Homo sapiens: one gene and its partner. The protein of the gene in region 2 interacts with the protein of the main gene of each other region in a biochemical or structural test. Each region holds a gene or a part of one and is shown on either strand. Other genes may lie near its edges.

Region 1 (3,654 bases), on a different chromosome or scaffold from region 2:
CCCCCTCCACCCAACCCACACTACCATCATGCATACAACATAGGAATGTTCCAGAGGCATCCTAGCTTCAAACAAAAGACAAAGCAACTTGTCTGCTAGCATCATGCGGTTCCACCAGAAAGAAAAAAAACACAGTCATGAAGAGCATCAGCTCATACATAAACACACTCAGATACCAGCACAGGAAACCCAGAGCATATCTAGATGCATGCATTTTCAAATGAGTGATGGAAGGGCCCAGAAGAGTGAGGCGCAGACTGGTTCAAAGCCCACAGTGTTCAGCCCCTCAACCTGTCCTGGAATGCATGTCTCAGAGGCCTCTTGCACTTCTCTATGCAGCTTTCAAAAATATTTCTGAAGAATAAATTGATGCCACCATTTCAATAAGTCTTTACTGAGTGTCTACTGTGTACCGGGCCCCAAGCGGCTACCCCTTTTTAAGAAGAATTTCTAAAAGGTTTCATTAACTTTATATTTATATTGTATAGCCTAGATTCCTTGCCTTTATTAAACAGTTCTCTTCTTTTTAATAATAATAAATATCCCATTCCAAAAAGCAGATTCCTAAATAAAGGGGTTGACAAGGCTACAATGTTTTTTCCCATTTTATTCTGCCCCGCTTGCTCCTCTCTTGTAGGATGGTTGTATCTCTACTAACAATGTTAGATCTCTACAAAGCCTGCTTCAGGATGTCAAACAACAATCACAGAACAAGACTGGAGGGTGACCAGCTCATCCCAATTTTTCTGGGACTGTTTTAAAACGGAAAGTTCCATGACCCAGGTATGCTCTTAGTCATGGGCAAGTCTGGGGGTCACTCTACTCCCAAGAAAGCAGACCCTGAGAAAGAGGATGTCCTTCATTTCACTTGGGAAGAGTGAGGCCACAGGAGAAAGGCGACTCATCTCCTTTAAGGAAGACTCAGGTTGCCTGGGGGCTAGCTCAGAACCCTTTCTCAGACTCCTCTCCTCCAGTTGCTTCCAGCTTTTTCCCCACTTCCTCCTGAGAAGGCCTATCATTTTAAACTCAGAGCCACTGAAAGCTTTACAGACTTTCAAACCAAAGACTCTGACAATAATGACAGGTAAAAGAAACTCCCATGTAAACGCTGAAGGCTGTAGTTACTTGGATGCCATCACCTCCTTGGCTAGCTTAAGGGCTTCTTCAGGTTAGACCATGCCTATTCATCCCGATATTTCCAGAACTGAGCCCAATGATTGGTGGATGGTAGATGCTGGATATAAGGACGTTAGCAACAGCTGCCATTTATTTAGTCTTACATTGTGGAGGGCAACACACTAAGCACTTTATATGTAAGTCTCTCCTGTTCTTACACTAACTCAATGAGGTCGGTTCTCCCCCATTTTGCAGCTGAAGAACAAACTCAGTCAGACCTTGTGCACTCAGGTCACGTGGCAGACGTGAAATTTAAACCCAAACCCATCTTACTTTTTAAAATTCCAGTTCATAATGACTTACCTGAATTAGAGCCATGTAAGGCAGGCATATATGCTAAGGTATCAAGAATTGAGAGAATATCAGATACATTTCTTTTATTCTCTACCCTTTTAGCTTTGCCATTACAAAAAAAAAAAAAAGCAGAAAACCAAATTAATTATGAGTTAAATACCTACAGGAAGCTAGAAGGCAGGGATTTTTTTAGAATTATGCCTGGTAAAACATAGGCATTCAACATTCTTTTGTTTGTTTGTTTGTTTGAGACAGTCTCATTCTGTCGCCCAGGCTGGAGTGCAGTGGCACAATCTCAGCTCACTGCAACCTCCACCTCTCAGGTTCAAGCAATTCTTCCTGCCTCAGCCTCCAGAGTAGCTAGGATTACAGGTGCCCACCACCATGCCTGCCTAATTTGTATCTTTTAGTAGAGACGGGGTTTCTCCATGTTGGCCAGGCTGGTCTTGAACTCCTGACTTCAGGTGATCTGCCTGCCTCAGCCTCCCAAAGTGCTGGGATTACAGGCGTGAGTCACCATGCCTGGCCATTCAAAATACATTTAATGAATGCAATTGTTTGCCTAATAAGTGGTTTAAATACCTGATGCTCAGTGTTTCAAATGCTATTTTACACACCACCATAGGTGAATGGATGGATCTGTACCTTCAGTTTCTGAAGTACCAATGTAAAGGAGTGGAGTGGATGGACTATTTATCCCAGTTAAGGACACCTCTTTACCTGCATGGTTGAATTAACTATTACTCACTTAAAATGGCAGTAATCTTATGTCTCATGCAACAAAAGGGGTAAATTCTCCAAAGTACACAAATTTGTCCATGTGCTCACCAACCACTTCTAATCTCATATTATTAATCTTCGAGGAAGCAATTTGCAAACCTACCCCAGAACAACACAACTGCAAAAGAATATCACAACAAATACTTGGTTCCTGAGACACTTATCTCAGCCCTATTCACTACCTTTCAAACTGAGAGTGTTTTGTTTGTTTGTTTGAGACAGAGCCTCGGTCTTTTGCCCAGGCTGGAGTGCAGTGGTGCGATCTCAACTCACTGCAACTTCTGCCTCCCAGGTTCAGGCAATTCTCCTGCCTCAGCCTCCCAAGTAGCTGGGATTACAGGTGCACACCATCATGCTTGGATAATTTTTGTATTTTTAGTAGAGATGGGATTTCACCATGTTGGCCAGGCTGGTCTCAAACTCCTGACCTCAAGTAATCCACCCGCCTCAGCCTCCCAAAGTGCTGGAATTACAGGCGTGAGCCACCACGCCCAGCCGAGAGCGTTATTTTAATATTAATGTATTTCTGGTCATTTTCTTCAAGCAGCTGAACATATTTCCCTCTTTCATAATAACACTCTCATAATGATCAAGCATTTTGAGTATCAAAGAAGAGTTTCTATCATGTGAATGAGTATTCCAAAATCAAAAAAAGGGAGGTAAAACAGATGTATATCACAAAGGTATTGAAGCCTTTAATTATAAACGCAGGTGGGGCAGTCAGCGGTGGGCAACTACACCCAGTCATCACAAATCCAGGCATCAATGCCTGCTCCGTTAGATTGTGGGGTGGTCTGGTAGGCTGTAAAGTCCTAAAGCTGCTTGTTGTATGTCACCAAGTAGAGGTTTTTTTTCTTTTGCTTTCTTTTGCTTTCTTTTTTTTTTTTTTTTTTTTTTTTTTTTGTGGGCAAAGTAGGAGGCAAATGGAAGTTGAAAAACAGGCTTTGAGTAACAACTAATTTTGTTAGAATCATGACCCTCATTGAGAACATTCACCTCCCAAACATTGGTATACGTACTGCAGCCTGGTCATTCTAATTTGATTCAACATTTAATCATTATTAATGCAAGTAGGGGAAGCTCTTAAAAATAAGTTTCTATCTTCTTAACTTCCTTTAAGACTTCAAGCTAAAAGGGTCTAAAATTCCTTTAAATCACTGTAAGTCAAAATCGTTTTCTGTGTTGTCAAAGAGTCACCAATGATTTGTTTATTGAGCCCTTCCTGTGTACAAACACGGTGGCAAACACACAATGGTGTAAAGCCTCATCCAGTCATCTTTAAGGAGCTTGCAAGAGAACTGAGATCTCTTTGAGTGCCTATACAACCAATCTGTTTTTCACTTTCAATACAGTATTCAATAAACTACATGAGATATTTGATGCTTTAATACAAAATAGGCTTTT
Region 2 (3,654 bases):
TCCCACAGACCTCTCTGATCTTTGTATAATGTTTACATTCTAAACATGGAATGCTTAAGAGAAAAAGGAGAAAGCTTAATAATAGCATATGCTGATAAAGATAACACTTACCTTTCAAAATATCTAAACATATTCTTCCCAACTTGTCTACATTAGGATGATAAATTTTGGTCATGAAACGTACTTTAGGGGCTGCCATTGGGTATTCTTCTGGAAGGAATAGTTCAAGTTTAAAAGTCCCTCCCTCAAAGGGGGAATCCTGAGGGCCAGCAATGACCACATGAAAATAACGGGCGTTGCTCTCATCTGGTTCGGCTTTGATGCCAGGAACTGGTTCTGCCAGCAAACGCTGGGTTTCCTATGACAGAAAAACAAACACATTTGTGAAACAAATGTCATTTTGCTAGACACCAAAAGTAAAATTAGAAAGTTCATCTCTTAGAACTACGCATAATAGAACAGCTCCAATCTCCCAACAGATTTAGCTTATAAAATGCAAAATTCAAAAAAATACCATTTAAATAATTACAACCAGCTGAATGAAACTGCAAGCGAATACTAATGATGTTATCATACATTTTGGCTACAAATGTCTACAAATATGTTAATAAAATTAGCTTAATAAAACTGATTTTTTACTCAAGTAAAATAAAGTAACATTAGGATTACATAAGTAAGGCAACTTGCTCTAAACTCAACCAAAACCAAGCTATTTAAAAAGTAAAATTAGCTTTTTTGGTGGTTTTTTTTGGCTTGTTTGTTTGTTTTTGAGACAAGATCTCACTTTGTCACTCACGCTGGAGTGCAGTGGCAAGATCTTGGCTCACTGCAGCCTCGACCTCCCTGGGCCCAGGTGATCCTCCCAACTCGGCCTCCTGAGTAGCTGGGATTACAGGTGTGCGCCACCACACCTAGCTAATTTTTGTATTTTTAGTAGAGACGGTATCACCCTGTTGGCCAGGCTGGTCTTGAACTCCTGGCCTCAAGTGATTTGCTCGCCTTGGCTTCCCAAAGTGCTGAGATTACAGGTATGGGCCAACACACTCGGCCAAAAATTAGTTTTTAAACCCACTGAAAACCTCCCCTCTGAAAAATGTAACGGACTAAAGAAAGGAGATAAGAAGAGGCCCAGGTACCTGAACAGGACTAAAGAAATATATTTAACAATGCTGATTACTCTAAAATTGACAATTAACTTCAGAGGAACCCTTAATACTCCCAACAATCATACCATTAGTTCTCTTTTTCATCATTCTCCCTCTCCCCTAAATAATTGTATTATTATTATTTCTCTTCTCTCTTCAAACCTCCAGCATCTCCATCCCCATCCTCACTTGTGGCTGATGTCCTGCTTCCTATTTCATGACAAGTTAGATACTTCCATCAGTTCCCACTGTAGCATTTGGACATTTCCCTGCATCTGCACCCATACACTCTGGTTTTTCTCCTGTATAGATGAAATGTCACGTACTCTTGGCTAGGGCCAATCGGTCTTGAGCACTAGATCTTACTGATCTCTGAAATGTTTGTTCTTCGGTACCATAAAGAAATAGCACTTGAACATAAATTTAATTTATTTAGTAAAGCCATTTTTACTTCCTGCAGAAAGGGTACACTCGCCAGGAGTTTTGCCACAAGAGTATACTGAACAAAGGAGACAGGGTCATTTATAACCTGACGCGTCCACCCTACTGCTGTGTCCGGTTTCCACTGGCTGGAACGGGATCTCACATTCTGTATTTGTCCTGACTGGCTAGCAACTTAGAACTTTTTAAAAGAGGTAAAGGTAGAGGGGAACAAAGGAAGGAGGAAGTAACTTGTGGAATGCTGAGAAAGGTAAAAACACTTTTAAATAAGGAAGAGGAACAGGCTATGACCTAATGCTTGCTTGGACCAGTATAAGCATGCCAGGGCAAATATTTAGGCTAAATTGTGGGAGCTAAGAACATAAAGTATATTGATTTCTTTATTATGGCTAGCAAATATTTAAGAATGTTTGCACAGGTCTTCGAATAAATTTTGCTTCTAAGAGAAGTTACTATTTATTCCTAATTAGATGGGGAGGAAAGTCTTTGAAGAGGAACCTCTACTTTGCTTGTCTCCAATTTCTCTCCTCCTCTTCTGTCTTGAACATACCCTCCAATCAAGCTGTAGTTATCGCTAACTTGTTTGTTAAGGTCACCAATGATTTCCACAAGGTTAAATCAAATGTCCAGTGCTTAATCTTTATCTTACCTAAATGCGACATCTTATCCAGCTGGTCTCCTTCCTCTTTGCAAAGCTTTATCTAACTTCCTATAAACATTCTCATGGCTCTCTTCCTCCTTGTCTGGCAGCAGCTTCCTTTAGTTTCCTTGTTGGTTTCTTCTATCTCCCAACATCGCAACACTGAAATGCACTGGGGCTCTATTCTAGGGCTTCCTCTCTGTTTATACATTTCCACAGTGATCTCATGTAATGCAATGAATTTAAATACTAAACACACTCTATAAGCTGAAGCCTCCCCTAATTCATATCTAGCCCAGACCTCTCCCCTCATCGTGCCTCTTGCCTCTATAACTACCTGCTTGATATACACTCTTGAATGTCTAATAAGCATCCCAAACTTAACATGACCTCCCTATCCCCAACCTTTGCTCCTCCCATAAAGTCTTCCCCACATCAGTTACTGGCAAACCCATCTTTCCAAATGATCCACCTTTTCCTTCATATGCCACACACATCTAGCCTGATTGGCAAATTGGTTTTTTTTATACTTCAAATTCTACTCATGATTGGACTGTTTCTCACCATTCCACTGCTACACCTCTGATCCAAGCAACCATCAGCTCTGACCTGGCATACTACAACAGCCTCCTAACCTGTTCTTCCTGCTTCTGACCTCACTACCTCCCTCGCAGGTCTATTATCCACAGACCCTTTAAAAGTCATAGTCCTGAGCCGGGTGCGGTGGCTCACGCCTGTAATCCCAGCACTTTGGGAGGCCGAGGCGGGTGGATCACCTCAGGTCAGGAGTTCGAGACCAGCCTGATCAACATGGAGAAATCCCATCTCTACTAAAAATACAAAATCAGCCGGGCATGGTGGCACGTGCCTGTAATCCCAGCTACTCGGGAGGCTGAGGCAGGAGAATCATTTGAAGCCAGGAGGCGGAGGTTGCAGTGAGCTGAGATCGTGCCATTGCACTCCAGCCTGGGTGACAGGGCGAGACTCCATCTCAAAAAAAGTCTGGGCATGGTGGCTCACACCTGTAATCCCAGCATTTTGGGAGGCCGAGGCGGGTGGATCGGCTCAGGTCAGGAGTTCGAGACCAGCCTGATCAACATGGAGAAATCCCACCTCTACTAAAAATATAAAATTAGCTAGGCATGGTGGCGCATGCCTGTAATCCCAGCTACTTGGGAGGCTGAGGCAGGAGAATCGCTTGAACCCCGGAGGTGGAGGTTGCGGTGAGCCCCGATCATGCCATTGCTCTCCAGCCTAGGCAAAAGAGCGAAGCTCCGTCTCAAAAAAAAAAAAAAAAAAAAAAAGTCATAGTCCTTGTAATGGGCCCCCAAAAGACGCTCTATATGATGCCCTCACTCCACCTACCTCTCTGACTTATCTTCAGCTGTTCTCTCTCCATCCCCTAACCTTCTCTGTTCCAGACAAAAA

The links. The genes of interacting proteins can lie anywhere in the genome.
Region 1: the proteins of UBE2N (region 2) and RNF152 form a complex in vitro, tested with the Homo sapiens proteins (one study listed by BioGRID).

Annotation. Positions count from the first base shown.
Region 1 is NC_000018.10:61,882,861-61,886,514, forward strand, and holds part of RNF152 (E3 ubiquitin-protein ligase RNF152), read right to left. Parts: intron 1-3,654. UniProt on the Homo sapiens protein: E3 ubiquitin-protein ligase that acts as a negative regulator of mTORC1 signaling by mediating ubiquitination of RagA/RRAGA and RHEB.
Region 2 is NC_000012.12:93,410,942-93,414,595, forward strand, and holds part of UBE2N (ubiquitin-conjugating enzyme E2 N), read right to left. Parts: intron 359-3,654; coding exon 112-358; intron 1-111. UniProt on the Homo sapiens protein: The UBE2V1-UBE2N and UBE2V2-UBE2N heterodimers catalyze the synthesis of non-canonical 'Lys-63'-linked polyubiquitin chains. This type of polyubiquitination does not lead to protein degradation by the proteasome.